3 linked regions of the Homo sapiens genome follow. The main gene of each other region encodes a partner of the protein of the gene in region 2 in a complex. Each region holds a gene or a part of one and is shown on either strand. Other genes may lie near its edges. The genes, in order: CYFIP1, EIF4E and EIF4EBP2. A codon is read from its position in the direction of its gene.

Region 1 (7,114 bases), on a different chromosome or scaffold from region 2:
ACTGGTTCTAGTGCCTGAGCTCTCAATTCCAGTCTGACACCAAGAAACTGGTTAGTTACTTGTATTAATCTCTAAAGCTTTACCCCAGGAAACATGATTTCTCTTTTTTTTTTTTTTATTTGGAGACAGGGTCTTGCTACGTGGCCAGGCTGGAATGCAGTGGTGCAATCCATAGCTCAATGCAGCCACAAATTTCTGTGGTAAAGCAATCCTCCCGCATCAGCCACCACACCAGGCTAAGTTTTCTCATTTTTGTAGAGACTGGGGTCTTGCTATTTTGCCCAGGCCCAGAAACTTGATTTCAAATACAATACTAAAAACAGTCCCGGCCTCTCCGCCACCTCCTCTGAGGACCCCCGGTCACCACACACAAAGGCTGGAGACAGGCCCGCAGGACACGCACTCCATCATCGATGCCTCCTTGGTCTCCAGGATGTGGTCCGTCAGGATCCAGGGCATCGACATCTCAATGGGGAACTGGATCCTCCTGCCCATGGTCAGCTCCAGGAAGAACTCTCGGAACCACAGCTGCGAAAGGTCACAGCACTGCTGCAGCGTTTCTGGGAGGGTTCAAACAACTCCATGTTATCTCCCGCAAGCAAAAAAAAACCTTTAGCAGAGATGACACAAGGGCTGTGTGCTGGGTGCCTGCTCCTCCTCGCTCAGCCCCAAGCCATGCAGCATGGACATGAGTGGGGAGGGGTCACCGGGGCCTTGCACTAGGGACAGGACCAGCTGGGCATAGCTGCAGGTAAAGCCACCTCATCAACCCTGTGAGCCCTTCAGTGGGATCCAGGGGGAAAGTGTCTTTTTTTTTTTTTTGAGACAGAGTCTATCTCACTCTGTCACCCAGGCTGGAGGTGAGTGGCGCGATCATAGCTTACTGCAGCCTTCAACTCCTGGGCTCAAGCGATCCTCCTGCCTCAGCCTCCCAAGTAGCTGAGAACACAGGCACGTGCCACCAACTGATTTTGTATTTTTTATAGAGATGGGGGTCTCGCCATGTTGCCCAGGCTGGTCTCAAACTCCCGAATTCAAGTGATTCTCCTGCCTTGGCTTCCCAAAGTGTTAGGATTAACAGGTATGAGCCACTGTGTCTTACCTAAAAATGTTCTTCTCAAAAGGAGACATAAAAACAGGACTTCTGGCTGGGCACAGTGGCTCACGCCTGTAATCCTAGCACTTTGGGAGGCCGAGGCGGGTGGATCACAAGGTCAGGAGTTTGAGACCAGCCTGGCCAACATGGTAAAACCCCATCTCTACTAAAAATACAAAAATTAGCCAGGCGCAGTGGTGAGCACCTATAATCCCAGCTACTTGGGAGGCTGAGGGAGGAGAATCTCTTGAACCTGGGAGGCGGAGCTTGCAGTGAGCTGAGATCGCCCCACTGTACTCTAGCCTGGGTGACAGAGCAAGACTTCGTCTCAACAAAAAACAAAACAAAAAAACAGGACTTCTTCACTTTCACTTAGGATAAAAACCAATGTCCAGGCTGCAGCATTAGAGGCACACTCAGGGAGGTCTGTCTAACGCAAAAATGAGACAGATTAAAAGAGCCCACACTCGAACTCCATCCTTTCATGGAGTTAACAGCAAAAGTGGTACTATTTCCTCCAATACCTCGCAGCACCCCAGCCAAGACAGCAGGGATCCTGTTCTGAGCAAGAGGTGGACAACGGAGGACTTGATGAGAACACGGGACAGACACACGGAGGGCAGAGAGCGCACCCACCGGTGGCCGGTCAAGGTGGCCGGGTGTCACCCAGGATGGGCTTGCCTGGCACAGGGCACCCGCCACCTTCCCCCCACGTCATGGTCTGCAAGGGCCATTTCTAGTATTTATCAATGCCTGTGTCTCAACTCAGGCACCAGATTACATTCGCCTGTTTCCAACCCCGCATGGGTTGAAAAGATTTTCTGTTCATGTCTCAGGGCCAGCCCGGGCTCCTCAGTTTATACCCTTGTAGGGACCACGCCCTGTGGAGCGAGCTCAGGCCAGGGACGTACAGCCACCGCCACAGAGGGCAGGACGAGTCACCGTCTGGGTGCACCAAGGGACGGGGTAGGGGGTGGTCAGGCGGGCGGAAGCATTCTAGACGGTGTTAGTGGTGTTAGGACATGCCAGGCCGGATGCTGCTCAGCAGTATCTCTTACCACTGAAATTTATCAAGTGAGTGTAGAAGAATGACTCTCGATGAAATTTTTCTATGTCCAATATGGTGGGCCCCTCAAGGCTACTTCTCAAGGTTTTCTTGGAACCACTTTTGTCTGCAATGAGGGACTCTAGCATGGTTCTCACCATGTAAAGCTGGATTATCCAAGGAAACATTTGTGGGGGAGAAAATATACATGGTACATTAGTTATGCCAAACTCAAAAAGCCCATGAGAGAAGGACTGCTCCGCTACGCCCTGGTCGGGAGGGCCCCGCACCAGCTCCCCGAGGGGTCCGGGTGCCTGTCTACGCGGCCACGTTGCTGCTGCTTTGGGGAAAGAACAACTTGTAGCGGAGCAGTTCGCCTCCGTGCCATAAACGTCAAGAGAAACAAATGATGTCTTACCACCAAAGGTTAAAAGGGGTAGGTAGGTGCACGACTGCCTCAGAAACGTGTTAACCGCATGCAAGAGCCTCTCCATGCCCAGAGACTTGAGCTGCCTGAGCAGCTCGGCAGAGCCCAAGGACTCGGCCATGGTGCGCACCAGGTAGAGCTAGACACGGACAGACAGGAGGGAGAGGCAGGAGAGAGACGTTAGTCACTCGACACACACACCCCAGGCAGGGACACGGGACGCACGCAGAGGGAGGCAGGGAGGGTGGCTGGCACCACGCACAGGCCGAGGGCCGTCCCCCTGACCCTCCTGCAGAGCCAGCAGCGTGCATTGCTGGTGACTTTCCAGAAGAGTGGCAGAAGAGATTAAAAGCCTCCGGCAGAGATGAGGGAGAAGACCAGCCCCAGGACGGAGGACAGACGCAGCGGTGTGGATTAAACCGGGTGTGAAAGTCGTGAGAAGCACCTCGGGGAGGCCTGAACACACCAGGAGAGAGGACAGTGGGCAGCTTAGGACCATGACACACGCAAGCAGCACCTCACAGTTTCCCACGCCCCATCTACAGTCATTTGCAGACCCAACGTAAAAATTATACAGACATTCAAACACCCATCAAGAAACACAGAATGAATACAGACACGTGGACTTGTGCCCACATTTTTGGGATGGGAGTTGAAATGGAGTCAGACTCCTTTTTAGTGCACATGACACATCTGACAATCAAGGCACGTCTCCTCACGCTCCCAACTCACTTGGGTGGGAAACAGAGGAGCAGCAGAAACCACAGGCGCCACTTTCTCTGCCTGAGCAGGCAGCGAGGACCTCATTTAACCCGGGCCTCACCAGCCCCACCCGCTCACAGCTCAGGGTGGGTCCCCCCAGGGAGAGGGTGCAGGCGGGGCTCAAGGGACGAGAACCTGAGTGCTGGAGGGTCCCACGGCGCGGCGTGGTACTTTTATGTCGAAGCCGCTCTTGGGGTCCTTCTCGCCCCGCAAGGCTGGGTCATTGAAGGGCTCATGCCCCGTCTCCCAGTCACACACGGTCTTCCTGATGGCCTGCAGGACACTGAACACCCCACCAAGTGATCAGCAAGGCCCAGAGGCCGAGACCTCCAGCCTCACAATCACACCATCTCCTCACCCAACTACAAGGCTCTCAGAACAGCCCCCATGAAAATACAAATTACTCTGGGGGCCATGGAGGGATGTGGTAATGGACCAGCTCAACAGGAAAGTTAAAAAGGAGTCTGCCTTCTGGAGAGTATTACTACCCCCAGAAGACTGCCCTGAGCTCCAGTTCGCATCTGTTAGCCCAGGGCAGCAGTGAGGTGGCTCTGAGTCATGCTGTGGGCAGGGAGAGGGCAGAACACAGCCTCCGCACGGAGCAGAGCTGGGCCCCGCCTGCCCGCAGCTGGCTGTCCCCAGTAACCAACAGGAATGTGAAGTCACCCACATGACCAGAGCCTGGCCATGTCTCTCGACTGGTTTGGAACACAGCCTCATCACCAACAGGGCTCCACCGTGCAGAGACCCCCATAAGGCACCATGCATGAACCACAGGCACCGCGAGCCTGGGATAAATGCACCTTGTCCCGGGGTCCTCAGACTCCCTAGACACTCGGCAGCTGACTTACTGTCCATTGTTTGGGTTAATAATTGGACCCATGCATTACTTTTAGAGGTAATTCACCAAGAGGGCATCTGAAGGTTGAAGATAAATATATTGAAATCATTTTTGAGAATTTAACGCTCCTGTTGTTTGAATCCAAGTTCATCCGAGGACGTGTGGGCACAGCGGGCACAGGGCGTGGGGAAGGCTGACCTCTGGATGACGTTCTTCTTCTTCTTGATGGCCTGCCGCAGCGGCTCCCTAAGGGTCACCTGGGAGAAGTCCTGCAGTGCGGCATAGACGGTGTGCCGGATGGCGTGGTTGAACACGCTCTCCATCCTGCCCATCAGCACCTGCAGGCCTTTGATCATGGCGATCACCTGCGGGGGACACAGCAACAGGGACGGCCCTTCTTAGGGATGGCACCAAGCCTCCTCTGCCTGGCACATGCCGGGGGCTGCTCCTCCTCGCCCACAGCACCTTACGCCCTCCCGCGTTCGTGCCCTGCAGCTGCCCTGCCCCAAAACGTCTTCTCCAAAGCCATAGTCAATGGAACTGTGCCCGCATCTGACTCCCCATCAGACCATGAGCACCTGGAGGACAGGGATGCATCTGACTCGAAACACACATGCATCCACCCCAGCACACCCTCCTGTGATGGAATTCAAATAGGAAAGAAGAAAAAGACTCAGGAAAGCAGGCATGATATTACTAGAAAAAGAAGTTACAAGAGGTTGTAGTCCAAATCCCATATTGTTCACAACAAAGGCGCAGTGAACTACCATTCACAGAAAAAGCCTGGAAGACTCTGATGGAACATAATTACATGACAAAGAGCTTCCAAAGGAATTCCTGGGACAGAAAAATGGTGCCAGGGCTCATTATTTCCCTGTTTCCAGACAGTAATTTTGTCATGACAGTGTGCTTTATTACTTTCTGAATAAACAATTGAAGGTCACAAACCAAGTATGACCTTTACAATTGCATGAGCTTTCTTACGGCTTTTGCCGTTTATAAATATTTCTACAGCCAACTTCATGATAGCTATGTGAGGCCTAGAAATCTCTCTGAAAGCAGCAAGTGAGGCAGAGCAAGACACACTTACCCCAAGTCCACCCTGCCGTGTGGATGTCTGACATATAAGACACCAAAGTGGAACATTTAATAGCACCAGTGAAACATAATTCACTTCTTTTTATCTTTTAACTAGAACGCTGTACCTAAGACTAATACATTTGGGAAAATCTTAACAACCCTTCTTTGGCCAGGCACAGTGGCTCACACCCATAATCCTGGCACTTTGGGAGGCTGAGGCGGGAGAATCACTTGAGACCAGAGTTCAAGATCAGCCCGAACAAAATGGCCAGACCCCATCTCTACAAAAAATTTAAAAATTAGCCAGGTGTGGTGGCATGAGCCTATAGTCCCAGCTACTCGGGAGGCTAAGCCAGGAGGATCACTTGAGCCTAGGAGTTCGAGGCTGCAGTGAGCCATGACTATGCCACTGCTCTCCAGCCTGGGTGACAGAGCGAGACCCTGTCTCAAAACAAAACAAAACAAAAACCCTACTTCAACATCTGAAAATGGTCTTCAGTCCACAGTAATAAAAAAAAACAAAAAACAAACAAACAAAAAAAACCTTTTGAAATTAAGTATTTGACAGATTCAAAATTAAGGCAGCTTTTTTTTTTTTTTTTTTTTTTTGAGACAGGGTCTCACTCTGTTGCCCAGACTGGAGTGCAGTGGCATGATCATAGCTCACTGCAGCCTTGAACTCCCAGGGTCAATCGATCCTCCTGCCTCAGCCTCCTGGGTAACTAGTTCTATAAGCATGCACTACCATGCTTGGCTAGGCATCTTCCTACTTTTATTAAATCTGTTGGTTTGAAGTTCACTTAGCAAGAACACAAATGTGTTTCCCCAAGGCTTCACACAGTCTCCCTCTATCACTTTCTGGTTTTATTCACACCTTTTGAGTTCCTCATTATGGCTTTATAAACAGCCTGATTCATGGGTAAATGAAGACGTGTCTGACAAGTACTTGAAACATGGCTTATATGATTTTGGTGCTTTTCTTTTTCATGAAATTTTCAGGTGGAAAAGTTGACAGTCTGCTTTTAATTCATCCTTCTATAACGTAAAGAATTTCCAAATAGACTGCTTTCATGTAAGACTCATGGTCTATATGCAATTAAAATAATGAAAATTTTAGAAAGGAAAAAGTCTGGAAGAAAACGCACCCAGCTGCTCAGCGCCATCTCTGTGATGGCGCCGCAGGCACTGTGCCTTCCTAATGCCATGCTTGTGTTTTCAGCATGCTTACTTTGGAAAACTGATGATTTTATATTGTTTTTCCAATCAACAAAAAAGAAAAGTTCTATTTAAAAAACCAAACGAGGAAAAACCCATTTAAGTGAACATAACAATCCTACATATTCACACTTACAGGAAGAAGGAAAAGGCAAGTTAACAGCAAACTGAGAGCTTTAGATGCACGCATTAGAAAACTAAAAAGGATAAAAATCATAATACTTATCAAACATTCATCACTAATTTATAGAAAACAGCAAAATAAACCCCCCCAAAATCGAAGAAAAATAACTAAAAGCACCCGGGCGCAGTGGCTCATGCCTGTAATCCCAGTATTTTGGGAGGCCGAGGCAGGCGGATCACAAGGTCAGGAGTTCGAGACCAGCCTGGCCAATATGGTGAAACCCCGTCTCTACTAAAAATACAAAAATTAGCCTGGTGTGGTGGTGCACACCTGTAGTCCCAGCTACTTGGGAGGCTAAGGCAGGAGAACTGCTTGAAACTGGGAGGTGGAGGTTGCAGTGAGCTGAGATGGCGTCACTACACTCCAGCCTAGGTGACACAGCGAGACTCTGTCTCAAAAATAAATAAATAAATAAATAAATAAATAAATAAATGTAACAATGAAACAGAAAACAAGTGTATAAT
Region 2 (5,472 bases):
AATGTATGCTCATAATAATAATTCAGTGATTATTGGCAAATAGTATATGTGCATTTAAAGCATGTGTGTTTACTACGTATAATTTTCATTAAAATTTATATAACATATCTTGGTTTTTGTTCCATGTTTAAAACCCACATATGTAGGGTTTTATTAAACCTTTTTTTGTAAATTTTATTCTTTGCAAAAGTGGCTTTTTTTTTTTTTTTGAGACAGGGTCTCACTGTGTTATTCAGGCAAGAGTGCAGTGGTGCAGTCATGGCTCACTTCAGCCTCAACCTCCTGGGCTCAGGTGATACTCCTACCTCAGCCACCCAATTAGCTGCAACTACAGGTGTGTATGACCACACCTGGCTATTTTCTTGTATTTTTTGTAGAGAAGAGGTTTTGCCATGTTGCCCAGACTGGTCATGAACTCCTGGACTTGATCAAGCCACCTCAGCCTTTCAAAGTGCTGAGATTACAGGCGTGAGCCACCATGCTAAACCAGCTGACATTTTTTTTCTAAGATTTCTTTTTACCTCAATTATATTAGTAATATTTGACACCAGGCGCAGTGGCTCACACCTGTAATCGCAGCACTTTGGGAGGCTGAGGCAGGTGGATCACAAGGTCAGGAGATTGAGACCATCCTGGCCAACACGGTGAAACCCCGTCTCTACTAAAAATACAAAAAAAACAATTAGCTGGGCGTGGTGGCGGGCGCCTGTAGTTCCAGCTACTTGGGAGACTGAGGCAGGAGAATGGCATGAACCCGGGAGGCGGAGCTTGCAGTGAGCCAAGATTGGGCCACTGCGCTCCAGCCTGGGAGACAGAGCGAGACTGTCTCACAAAAAAAAAAAAAAAAAAAAAAATTTGACTTACAATTTTATGTTAAAATTAAGTGCTGGTCAGTCAGTGGTCAAAATGTTTGGTTTGCCCCTTTGTGATTTTTCAAATATTATTAATTTTTCTTTTTAAAATTAATTAATTTTTTGAGACAGAGTCACACTCTGTTGCCCAGGCTGGGGTGCAGTAGCGCGATGTCAGCTCACTGCAACCTCCACCTCTTGGGTTCAAGTGATTCTCTTGCCTCAGCCTCCTGAATAGCTGGGACCACAGGCCTGAACCACTGCAGTAGTTTTTGTAGAGACAGGGTTTCGCCATGTTGGCCAGGCTGGTGTCAAACTCCTAGCCTCAAGTCATCCACCTGCCTCAGCCTCCCAAAGTGCTGGGATTTCAGGCGTGATCCATTGCTCTCAGCCATGTAAATTTTTATGTGAACATAATTTATTTCTGGATCAAAAGGTATAGGGATTTTCTACATTTCATGCTATATGGGGTTCCATAAGAGAAAAGAGTTGATTTGTCATCATATTTTAATGTTTCTTCCAGCATCAAAACCTAATTTTGGAGGATTTACTTTTTTTTTTTTTAAATGAGTTAAATTAAGAATTTTTTTCCTACGGAAGTTTTGTATTTTTGTCAATATTAAATGTTTTTGAGTGTATATTAAGACTTCAGATTTTCAAACGAAGATTTTCTTTTTTAACCTTCCAATTTGCATGACTCAATGGTCTTGCTTTTTGACATTTTTAATAATTAAGTATAATTGAAAGGAATGCATTGCATTATAATGCAAATTTGATAATTAACACTTTAGTTACCATAAAATTACTTTTTAATACCTTATTTTAGGGGGAAGGTAGTAAATCTTCTGGAAGGTATAAAAAAAACCTATCCTAGTATCATGTTGGAGGATTTAACTCCATTAATATCTTTATTCCTTTATTTTTATTTGATTTTTGCTTATTTTTGAATTTTTACTATTTTTTTCCTAAAGATTCTTTTTTCTTTTTTTTTTTTTTTTTTGAGACGGAGTCTTGCTCTGTCACCCAGGCTGGAGTGCAGTGGCACAGTCTCACTCAAGCTCACTGCAAGCTCTGCCTCCCAGGTTCACGCCATTCTCCTGCCTCAGCCTCCCGAGTTGCTGGGACTACAGGCACCTGCCACCACACCCGGCTAATTTTTTGTATTTTTAGTAGAGGCGGGGTTTCACCATGTTAGCCAGGATGGTCTCGATCTCCTGACCTCGTGATCCGCCCGCCTCGGCCTCCCAAAGTGCTGGGATTACAGGCGTGAGCCACCGCGCCCAGCCAAAGATTCAAATTTTTAAGATGACCTATGAAGCTCTCTGTGATCTTCCTCTGAAACCTTGTCAGCTTTATCTCATGTTCACTTTACTTACAAGCCATAGCCACACAGCCTAATTTTTATTTCTCAGCTTTCAAATGTGCTCATTCTCTTAACATTATCCTTTTGACCTCGTGATATTTAAAGGGGAAGACTTCTCTAATGTTGTAGATGAGATTAGAATCTCCTTGTTATACAGTATCACAGCCCTTATGTTTACTCTTTGGCACTCATGACAAGTGCCATTTTATTCTTGCAATAGAGTCATGTCTTACTTGAAAATTAGGTTGTAAAGTTAGTATGTAAAGCAGAAATTACATTCTCCCTCGAAGTGTTTCATTCACTCCCTCGAAGTGTTTAATCTCCCTCAAAGTGTTTAGTTTTTGTTTGTGCAGTCTTATAACAGGTATGGTTAATATAATTTGTGTAGTAATATACAATATTTGCTAGGGTTCAGACGTGAAATGTAACATTTTAGATCAAAGAATGAAACATGTTTGTTTTACAGATTTCTGTTTTTAAGTATGCATGTGATACAGGTCTGTCATGTATTTGTGATTATTTGATTATGTTTTCTCTACTAGACTATAAATGCAGTCAGCTCAGGGACTGTCCTTACTTTGTTCACTGTTGATTTAGTAATAATTATAGTATCATAATAAATAACAATATAATAATATAGTAATGCTCCTGTAATTTAGTAATAACATACCTGACTCGCTCTCAAATATTTTAAAAGTAATTAACCAAGAATATCGCAAAAATGAAGAGTAAATTGTGCTGAAAGGAAAAGGGTGTATAATTAATTTCCTATTTTATTCTCAAGTCTATGTTTTTTAATATAAAGACTAATAACCCTAAATTTTTAAATGTATTTCTTGTGAGTAAAAGTTAATGACTACTTTTTTCTTCTTCTTTTTTTTTTTCTTCTAGGAGGGTATACAAGGAAAGGTTAGGACTTCCTCCAAAGATAGTGATTGGTTATCAGTCCCACGCAGACACAGCTACTAAGAGCGGCTCCACCACTAAAAATAGGTTTGTTGTTTAAGAAGACACCTTCTGAGTATTCTCATAGGAGACTGCGTCAAGCAATCGAGATTTGGGAGCTGAACCAAAGCCTCTTCAAAAAGCAGAGTGGACTGCATTTAAATTTGATTTCCATCTTAATGTTACTCAGATATAAGAGAAGTCTCATTCGCCTTTGTCTTGTACTTCTGTGTTCATTTTTTTTTTTTTTTTTGGCTAGAGTTTCCACTATCCCAATCAAAGAATTACAGTACACATCCCCAGAATCCATAAATGTGTTCCTGGCCCACTCTGTAATAGTTCAGTAGAATTACCATTAATTACATACAGATTTTACCTATCCACAATAGTCAGAAAACAACTTGGCATTTCTATACTTTACAGGAAAAAAAATTCTGTTGTTCCATTTTATGCAGAAGCATATTTTGCTGGTTTGAAAGATTATGATGCATACAGTTTTCTAGCAATTTTCTTTGTTTCTTTTTACAGCATTGTCTTTGCTGTACTCTTGCTGATGGCTGCTAGATTTTAATTTATTTGTTTCCCTACTTGATAATATTAGTGATTCTGATTTCAGTTTTTCATTTGTTTTGCTTTTGTTTTTTTCCTCATGTAACATTGGTGAAGGATCCAGGAATATGACACAAAGGTGGAATAAACATTAATTTTGTGCATTCTTTGGTAATTTTTTTTGTTTTTTGTAACTACAAAGCTTTGCTACAAATTTATGCATTTCATTCAAATCAGTGATCTATGTTTGTGTGATTTCCTAAACATAATTGTGGATTATAAAAAATGTAACATCATAATTACATTCCTAACTAGAATTAGTATGTCTGTTTTTGTATCTTTATGCTGTATTTTAACACTTTGTATTACTTAGGTTATTTTGCTTTGGTTAAAAATGGCTCAAGTAGAAAAGCAGTCCCATTCATATTAAGACAGTGTACAAAACTGTAAATAAAATGTGTACAGTGAATTGTCTTTTAGACAACTAGATTTGTCCTTTTATTTCTCCATCTTTATAGAAGGAATTTGTACTTCTTATTGCAAGGCAGTCTCTATATTATGTCTTCTTTTGTGGTGTCTTCCATGTGAACAGCATAAGTTTGGAGCACTAGTTTGATTATTATGTTTATTACAATTTTTAATAAATTGAATAGGTAGTATCATATATATGGAATTAAATTGATGTGGCTATCTTTGTTTTTTTATAAAGTAAGGCACAGTCATTCAGTCTTAGGTAAATAATGTACTCTCTTAATATGTTAATACTCATGAGAATTGGGATCTGATGCATCACCATTTGATTGGTAGCAACAGTGGTTGTAAAACTTGGTTGCTGAATTGAGTTGTTTCTATGTTAAGTGTCAAAATGATAGTGTAGGGAAAGTACAGGTGGTGGGGACATATGCATTAAGAATCTTGTTAGTGTTGCAATCTAAATAGAATGGAATAAACAGGTGTTAAGACATATTTATAGTGGTAAATTGTTGTAGTATGGTATTCTGTAAACTTGAAAACTTGATCTACTCTTTGTAGGTATCATTTGAAAGCAAACTTGAAAATGTTTTGTACATAGTACATACTTGTATAGTCCTGTGAGATGAAGTATGGCTATCAGACCAAAGGATAAGCCAAACTGTAGGTAGCAGAATGGAAATTATTATTTTGAGAGGAAAATTTGTCTTTGAATGGTGATTATGACTTAATCATTTTAAAACTGATAAACTTGACAAAAACCCTGTATGAAATAAACATGAAATTAATAGCACTGATTTCATTGTAAAATTTTAAAGCAGTTTAAAGGGTACCACAGGTTATCACAGTACTCTCAATGCCACAAACACCTCTTGTTCAGTATTCTAGAAATACTGAATCAGAATTCTGTGTTTATTATAATCTCAGCATACTGTACATAATATCTGCTAGTTAAACTTGGGTAATTGGTTAAGGTGACTTACTGTCTATGTCAATATGTATAGTTTTGAGTACTTCAAGAGTTTACTTAAAAGTGATGATGTTACTGGTATGTTGGCAGTGGGTGGGACTGAAGTAGTGTATCTATTATAAATTGATCTATTTTCTTAATTCTAAGATGAAGTCCAATTTTAAGCATCAGCTTTTAGGTGCAAAGGAGGAATTAACACATTAAATGTATACAGTTCTAAATTTTTGAAATAACTGATGTGTAGCATTTGATTATTGGTATTACCATTTTAGAATCATGATGTTATTTTAAACCTTTTTCCTGGGGACAAGAAAGGATAATAA
Region 3 (7,114 bases), on a different chromosome or scaffold from region 2:
ATGGTTTATTTCCTCTATTTTCCAGAACTGCGTTTAAGGTTTACCTAAATTACCCCTCCTCCAACACATTCTTTTTTTCTTTATCACTGTAGAAGCAGAATGGTGCGGTAGGAGTGGCCAGCTCCTGAAATATTCCTCAGGGACTGCACTTGGTGACCCCTAGATGGGGGCCAGCATTCCGCTTTGTCATATTTCAGATGAGTTTTTTAATGGACAAAGTGTTAGTTTGGAGCAGGGCCAAAGTCCAAAGCCTCCAGAAGAATGTGCTCCCCTGAGAGATGGCAAAGAGCTCCCCAAGAGCTGCTGTTTAGTCATCCTGAAGACAAAGGGACAATGGGGATGTTTTCACTTGTGTCCTTTTCCCCAAAACTTCTCCCCATGGGTGATGGGACTGCCATTCTTATTTTTCAGATTAAGACCAGCCAAAGCAAAGCAGAGTAATTGTTTTAAGGCAGCAGAGAGTGGGACAATTTGAATTACTTTTTGTCTCTCATTTAGAGGGAATGACAGTTAAAACTGTTATGCTTCTTTGTGTACGTGCTAAACTCTTCATTTTATTGGTCCTAACTAGGGGATGATGCTCAGTTCGAGATGGACATCTGACTCTCCTGCAAGGATTAGAAGAAAAGCAGCAACACTGATACTTGTGTGCACCTGATTTGGCCAATAGGATCAACAGTGAAAAGACAGAAGAGGCAATACCAGCAGTCCCCATTACAGTCTCCACCTCCCCGTCTTCCTCTGGGTGCCAAATGATGGGAAGATGAGCTTCATCTGACCATTTCTTCTCCCTGTCTCCTGTTCCCCTTCCCAGTTAAACAGGTTAGATTGAAGGCCCTTGCTGTATTTCTGTAGAGCTAAGCAGCCCTTAGAGGAAAACAGTTCAACTCTGACTTTCCTAGTTGTTTTTTTATTGAGAGCCACCCTCATACCCTGTAATTTTGTCCCAAATCAAATATCAACCTACCAACAACTGCCTGGCTGGGAAGTCTGGGGAAGGGATACAGAGCTTGGTGGGCCTAACACCATTCATATTCCTTACCCTCTGTCTCTCCTCCCTGTATCCCACCTATGGTTCAGTGTTGCAAGAGTCTGGGCTTGGGGTCTTTAAAACCAGCAGGGGGAAATGATAAAAAGAGAGCTGCTTTCCCTTTTACCTTGAGGTATTCGTCCCTCGGGACAGAGCACAGCTTGTGCAACTCTGGTAGCGTTACCCTGTGACACTGTTTTGAGGTCCACTTCCTTTCTTTCCTCTGGGAGGAATGTCTTCTGTCTTTGGTATTATAGTTCATCTTCCCATTCTTTTACTTAGTGCATTTGTGCAGATATTTTTAACTCTGTACATCAGAAGAGAGCCCTTGGTAACCAGTTTTGCTCTTCTTCTGCCACTCCTCCCTGCTTGCATCTCGTTGCTGGCAGAGTCCTCTTGTACTTCAAGAAAGCAAAGTGATTTTGTCTGCTCCTAGAGCAGGTCCATACCAAGTAATAGAGGCACTTTAGCTTCCACTTGGTGGGTAAGGCCTGATCATAGTATTCTGTCAGATAATGCCTAAGAATGACCGCTGAAGAACGTTGACCCATTTGAGTACCCGGTCTCAGTCGTCATTTTTAAGTCCAGTGAGCATTGTGGTAGTTGTTCTTAGATTGCAGTTTCTTATGTTTTGAGTTTGAAGTTGATTTTCAGAATGTTCTTAGAAAAGAACTGCATTTTTTTCCTTTGTGGATCTGCTTTGTTTGGCTGCTGGGATAGATAAGCATGGGCTTAAAAAATGTGTTCCTCCCAGTTTTCTTGCCTTTCCTGTTGTACTCTGAATTTCTCTCCCTACCTCCCTCACTTTCTTCCTCTCTCCTTCCTTTCCTTCCTTTTTCTCTACCAGGCCATTTTTCAAATTTACATCAAAGATACCTGAAGTGTTGGTATCTGAGAATATCTGTCACTCCTCTTATCTGAGAAGTGACCTTTTATTTTTAAGATGACTACAGACCTATTTTTAGATATGTTTTCAGTACAATTTTGAACAGCAACTTTTTAATTAAACATCTTCCAGTGTTAGGAAGTTGAGAAACGTTCATAGGCAAGTCTGCTGTTCTATGTCACCATCTTTTGTCTCCCCTAGTCCCCCAGGAGCTCTTTCCTTTCCCCTCTAGTTTTGGGTGTGCATGTTTGGAGTTTGTAGTGGGTGGTTTGTAAAACTGGACCATTCTGCCTTGCTATGGGTTGTTCAAGAAAGCCTCATTCTTTTCTGTGACCCTTTCGCTTTTGCATTCACCCTCCTTCCCACCTACCTGTCCTGGGGCTGTTGAGCAGCATAATAATCCCGGGAGAATGATTCCCCTCATAGAAAGACAAAAGCATCCATCCCCTCATAGTTAAGTAGCCACTGGTGTCCTGGGAATTTCTGGTTGGATTTGGTGCCCTGAACTTTTTTATTAAGAAATCAGATCCCAGGGTGAGAGTAACAGGCCATTTGGCCAAGAAAGAAACCTGTTTGTTTTTCTTTTGAACTATGAAAAGACCCTGTTTGTGAATATATTTTAGAAAGAGAGGAAGGATGTCTGCAGAACTTTGTTCTGTTTTCTGCCACAAAAATGTGAATAGTTCAGAGTGAAAACCTTTTGTGATGGTTGATGTCTCAGGAATAAGCTGGATCTCCAATGTTTTGGGGATGCTTTGAGTCTCAAAAAAAATTGATAATCAGAAAAGTAATTTTTGTTTGTTTGTTTAATGTATCCCTGTTCTGTTTTTAATTAAACTCCAAGTCTCATTTTACATATTCTTGGAAAAACCTAAGTTGCTCTGTAATTTACATAAGAAGCATGCTCAGGACCTCTTTGTACCCCGGGGAGCCTGATTCTTTGGGAATGAAGCTTTTCATTCTTCATACACTGGCCTTGGCATCCTGTGGAATTTGACCCAACTAGCAGCTAGTCAGTCTGTCAGTGAGCAGAAGAGTGAACTCTTCTTGATCTTTATTGCTATGTGTGAAAACTTGGCTTCCTCACTGAACGGTGAGGAATGGATTTAAAGCATGAGCTTTAGTAGTATCAAGATGCCATTTTCCTTTTTCTTGCTGTCTTGGGGAGCTTCTGCATGTGACCCCCTAATCAGAAGGCATGTTTTTAGTATTTCTTGGGAGTGTCAGCTGTATAATGCAGCAGCTGTTCAATCCCTTACCCTTCTCTGCAAGGACTTCCTTACAGCTTGGTGCAGTTCTTTCCCAGAGGCCACCACTACTAGACAGTCTTTCTTTTATCTTATGGAGATAAATTGGCATTTAAAAAATAATTTCACAAGGCATGAGATAAACTTTCAATAGATGATACCTTTGTGTCATGCCTCATGGAATTATTTTTAGAACAAGCCAGAGTCCATTGAGTGGTTTACCTCTGCATGTTTGGAGGGAACCTCACAGATGAAACCCTTAATGAATAATGTGTCCGGGGTTTTTTAGAGAGAAGGAGCACTCTTAAGTTACCACTTTGAGACAGCTCTTAACATCTTAGTGACCATTTGTAGTTTTCTTTTTATGAGGAACCCATGCTTCTATACTTGGGCGGACAATCGAGCTTAATGAGAAGTGACTTCCCTTCAAATTCCAACAGCAGACATGCATTGTCATGATTCTGTCTTCTTTTTAGTGTGGTTTATTGAGTTCAGCAGTTCTCATATTCTGTTTAAATAGGTACAGCATTTTCAAGGGCACAGATACAGAGAAGCTGGCTTTCTAGGTATTGGGCTTCCAAGCCAAGAGTTTTGTCCTTCCACCTGTATTAGTTATCTATTGCTGTGTAAAAAATTACCCTAAATTTAGTATGTTAAAATAGTAAACATTATCTGTCAGTTTCTGTGGGTTAAGAATTTGGGAGTAGTTTAACATGATGGTTCTGGCCCATGGTATCATGAAGTTACAGTCAAGATTGAACAGGGGCTGCAGTCAGCTGGAGCTGGAGAAACCACTTCCAAGTTCTCTCTTTGTGGCCGTTGGCAGGATGCCTCAGTTTCTTCCCATGTGGGTCTCTGCGTAGGGCAGCATGAGTGTCCTCACACCATGACACCTGGCTTCTCCCTGAGCAGCTGATTCCAGAGATCATGGGGCAGGGCCAGGAGAAAGCTGCAGTGCCTTTTAAGACATAGTCTTGGAAAGGACACACCGTCACTTCTTATCCTAGTTGTTAGAAGCAAGCCACTAAGTTCAGCCTGCACTCAAGGAGAGAGGAATTACACATACCTCTACCCCAATGGAGCAGTAGCAAAGAATTTATGGACATATCTTAAAAGCACCACACCCCAACTGGGGATGAAAGTAGGTCAACAGGGAGGTAGGTTTAATCTAGATAAGCTGAAAGATAGATTGCTATCAAAAACAGTTCTCCAAGATGTGCATAGCCAAACTGGGATAGAAGGCAAACTCCCCAAAGCTACCTGCTGGTTTTGAGAGGGGTGGTAAGACATGGCAATTCCCAGGAGTAGTAGAAAATAATATGCCTGACTACCAACAGCTCAAGTATGCTTATTTGCACATCCTAGACTTGGTGTCTGTAAGACTCAGTTACCACTTTTATTTTCCTGTAGCTAGGAGTTAGCAAAAGGAACTGGGGCCTTCCAGCCGAGCCACTAAACCTGTCTTATTTGGAATGGGGATTGTCCAGCAAAGGGAGCAAACATGAATTAGATGTTAAGCTATTGAGCTGAAGAAAAGAAAGCAGTTCACATTTAGGTGAAATAGATGATGTTATCAGGAAGCCAGGTTCCCACCAGAGTCGGTGCTTGGTACCTGGTCTCTCCAGTCTCAACAGACTCAGGTCAGGTCTCTCACCCAGGAAGCAACCACTCAATAAAATAGAGAACATCTGAGAATTACAAATGTCTATGCTTGATTGCTCCTCTAAATCCAGTGCATAGGTTAACCCTGCATGCCCATTTCTTCCTGGGCTTCTTGATGGCAATGTGTTCTTAAATAACTGGTCTTGTGTTCATGCTAAAGACAAACTTACATGAAGTTTTTCAGTTTAAGACATTCTAGTGAATGGCTGCTATGTGTTTCTGGCACTCATTCCTAACCAAGTCTTTAGAGATTTCAGATGACCTTAAAGATGCAATATCTTTTTCTTTCTTTCTTTCTTTCTTTTTTTCTGAGACAAGAGTTGCGCCCTGTCGCCCAGGCTGGGGTGCTGGAGTGCAGTGGTGCGATCTCAGCTCACTGCAGCCTCTGCTTCCCAGGTTCAAGTGTTTCTCCTGCCTCAGCCTTCCGAGTAGCTGGGATTACAGGCATGTACCACTATGCCTGGCTAATTTTTATTTCTATATTTTTAGTAGAGATGGGGTTTCATCATGTTTGCCAGGCTGGTCTCGAACTCCTGGCCTCAAGTGATCCGCCCACCTCAGCCTCCCAAAGTGCTGGGATTACAGGCGCGAGCCACCGCGCCTGGCCAAAGATGCAAATTCTTGTTTGGATTTATGCTCTGCCTCTTCCCAGCATTTTCTTATCTGTAGCCCTGCTTGCTTGAGAGTATACTTGGATAAGAAGTATTGCTGTTGAGGGAGCTATAAGAAAAGGATTCTTCTTCCAGAAGTAAAGAACTCATCTTTAGAGTACCTTTAAATGAATTTTGTTTTTCTTTCTTATTTTGAGGTGGATTGGTCTTCTCTTTTTTTGGGTTTCCAGCTCACTGGGACTCTCAGACCTTACCTTTCCAGCTCAAACACCATTAGTTAAATTCCTTCATTCTCATTAGAATGCAGCCTGCTGAGTATGTGGGTTTCACTGCCGGAGTCCATCATTTAGCCAGTATACATAGAGGAACTGCTTCGAATCAAGGCAACTGGTGAAGGGCTTAGCATGTTGGCAGCAATATCCCAGAGATTGAATCTGTTTGCATTTTCCTCATCTAGGATAACAGCTGCTTGAAGCCAGGGCTCTTAGCCCTTTGCATTCCCCTTGAGCGAGGAAGCCACACTGCCTTTCTGTGTCTGGTTCAGAGCTCTTCCTTCTTGGCATGTTTTCTGGACTACATGCACATGGGCAGCTATAGATTAATCTGCAAAACCTAGTCACTTACCTACCCATAATATCTGGGAAGGTGTGGTATTTGTTTTAAAGAAACATTGTTTCTTTGGGAGGGCAGTTTCTGTCTGGACTTTGAGGTGGACTTAGTTATCCCTACAGTTCTTTAACTCTCAGCTTTTAATAAAAGATGAAATCAGATATTGATGCAGTTGGGTCACAATTCTTTAGAATGCTTCTACCCCAGGGCCGCTTCCTGTTCCTAGTCATGGTTTTCCAGTTTAGTAGTGGAGTTTCTTGAGGCTAACTTACAGAAATTTCTAACTGAAAACTTTAAGAGTTATTGATACTTGTTTTTTCAGTCAGTCACTTACATCACCTAGCCTACTCTCTGGAATTTAAATTTATTTCTCTAGGCTGGTCCTGGAAGTTGATAACCTTTTGGCAAAGCTTAGATTTAGGAGAAGGCTTGAGTCCCTGTTCAGCGGGTCTGTGGATTCTCTTTGCTTATGGCTCTCTGCCTGCAGCCCTGGCAGACCATACTGTATGTCATGGATACCCAGTGGAAATATTACTGAGATGAAACACATTTCCAAGGGTATTTAAACTCTCACTCTGCCACCTTTCTAAGGGTGGGAGGCTGGCAGAGATGCTGCAATGCTTGATAATCATTTGGCCACACTGAAATTTCCAAAGGGAGCTCTTGCCGGTGCTTAAAACCAAAACTCCTGGACACTTAGAAAATTCCATGAATCTAGCACAAAATATCCATTCTTGCCCAAGTGTATCCCCTTTCTCTCCAGCTTAATCTTTTTTTTTTTTTTTTTTTTAAAGCCCAGGCCAAGGGTACTTTTAACTGGAAACTGGGGAGGAGGGAAGAACACTAGCAGGGAGCTAAGAGGCAGGTTGCTGGGTAAGCCATCCTGCTCCTACCTGGTGCCTGTATCTACATTGCTGAGTGCTGTGCGCCAGTGCCTTTCCTTCATCTGCAGATGGAGCCCATCTCTTTCCACCTGGGTGAGGAGACCCTCTGCTACTCCAGGGGTAAACCTTAAAGAAGGTGTCTTGAAGAGCCCAGAGGACACTCACGTGCTAAGGTGTCCATTTTA

What was found.
Region 1: EIF4E (region 2) and CYFIP1 share a complex: the UniProt entries of both Homo sapiens proteins name them as parts of the CYFIP1-EIF4E-FMR1 complex.
Region 3: the proteins of EIF4E (region 2) and EIF4EBP2 are in contact, whole or in part, in a crystal structure (PDB 3AM7), measured with the Homo sapiens proteins. Residues at the interface, in NP_001959.1 of Homo sapiens: His37, Pro38, Leu39, Gln40, Val69, Trp73, Tyr76, Asn77, Leu131, Glu132, Leu135, Ile138, Gly139, Glu140, Ser141, Asp143, Asp144, Ser146, Asp147, Arg186 (codon at 3,122); in NP_004087.1 of Homo sapiens: Pro47, Thr50, Arg51, Ile52, Ile53, Tyr54, Arg56, Phe58, Leu59, Leu60, Arg62, Arg63, Asn64.

What each region holds. Positions count from the first base shown.
Region 1 is NC_000015.10:22,914,323-22,921,436, forward strand, and holds part of CYFIP1 (cytoplasmic FMR1-interacting protein 1), read right to left. Parts: intron 4,537-7,114; coding exon 4,370-4,536; intron 3,614-4,369; coding exon 3,466-3,613; intron 2,992-3,465; exon of another isoform or gene 2,690-2,991; coding exon of another isoform or gene 2,309-2,689; coding exon 2,155-2,308; intron 561-2,154; coding exon 404-560; intron 1-403. UniProt on the Homo sapiens protein: Component of the CYFIP1-EIF4E-FMR1 complex which binds to the mRNA cap and mediates translational repression. In the CYFIP1-EIF4E-FMR1 complex this subunit is an adapter between EIF4E and FMR1.
Region 2 is NC_000004.12:98,878,776-98,884,247, reverse strand, and holds the end of EIF4E (eukaryotic translation initiation factor 4E), read left to right. Parts: intron 1-3,105; coding exon 3,106-3,220; 3' UTR 3,221-4,972; downstream 4,973-5,472. UniProt on the Homo sapiens protein: Acts in the cytoplasm to initiate and regulate protein synthesis and is required in the nucleus for export of a subset of mRNAs from the nucleus to the cytoplasm which promotes processes such as RNA capping, processing and splicing.
Region 3 is NC_000010.11:70,421,145-70,428,258, forward strand, and holds part of EIF4EBP2 (eukaryotic translation initiation factor 4E-binding protein 2), read left to right. Parts: intron 1-571; coding exon 572-603; 3' UTR 604-7,114.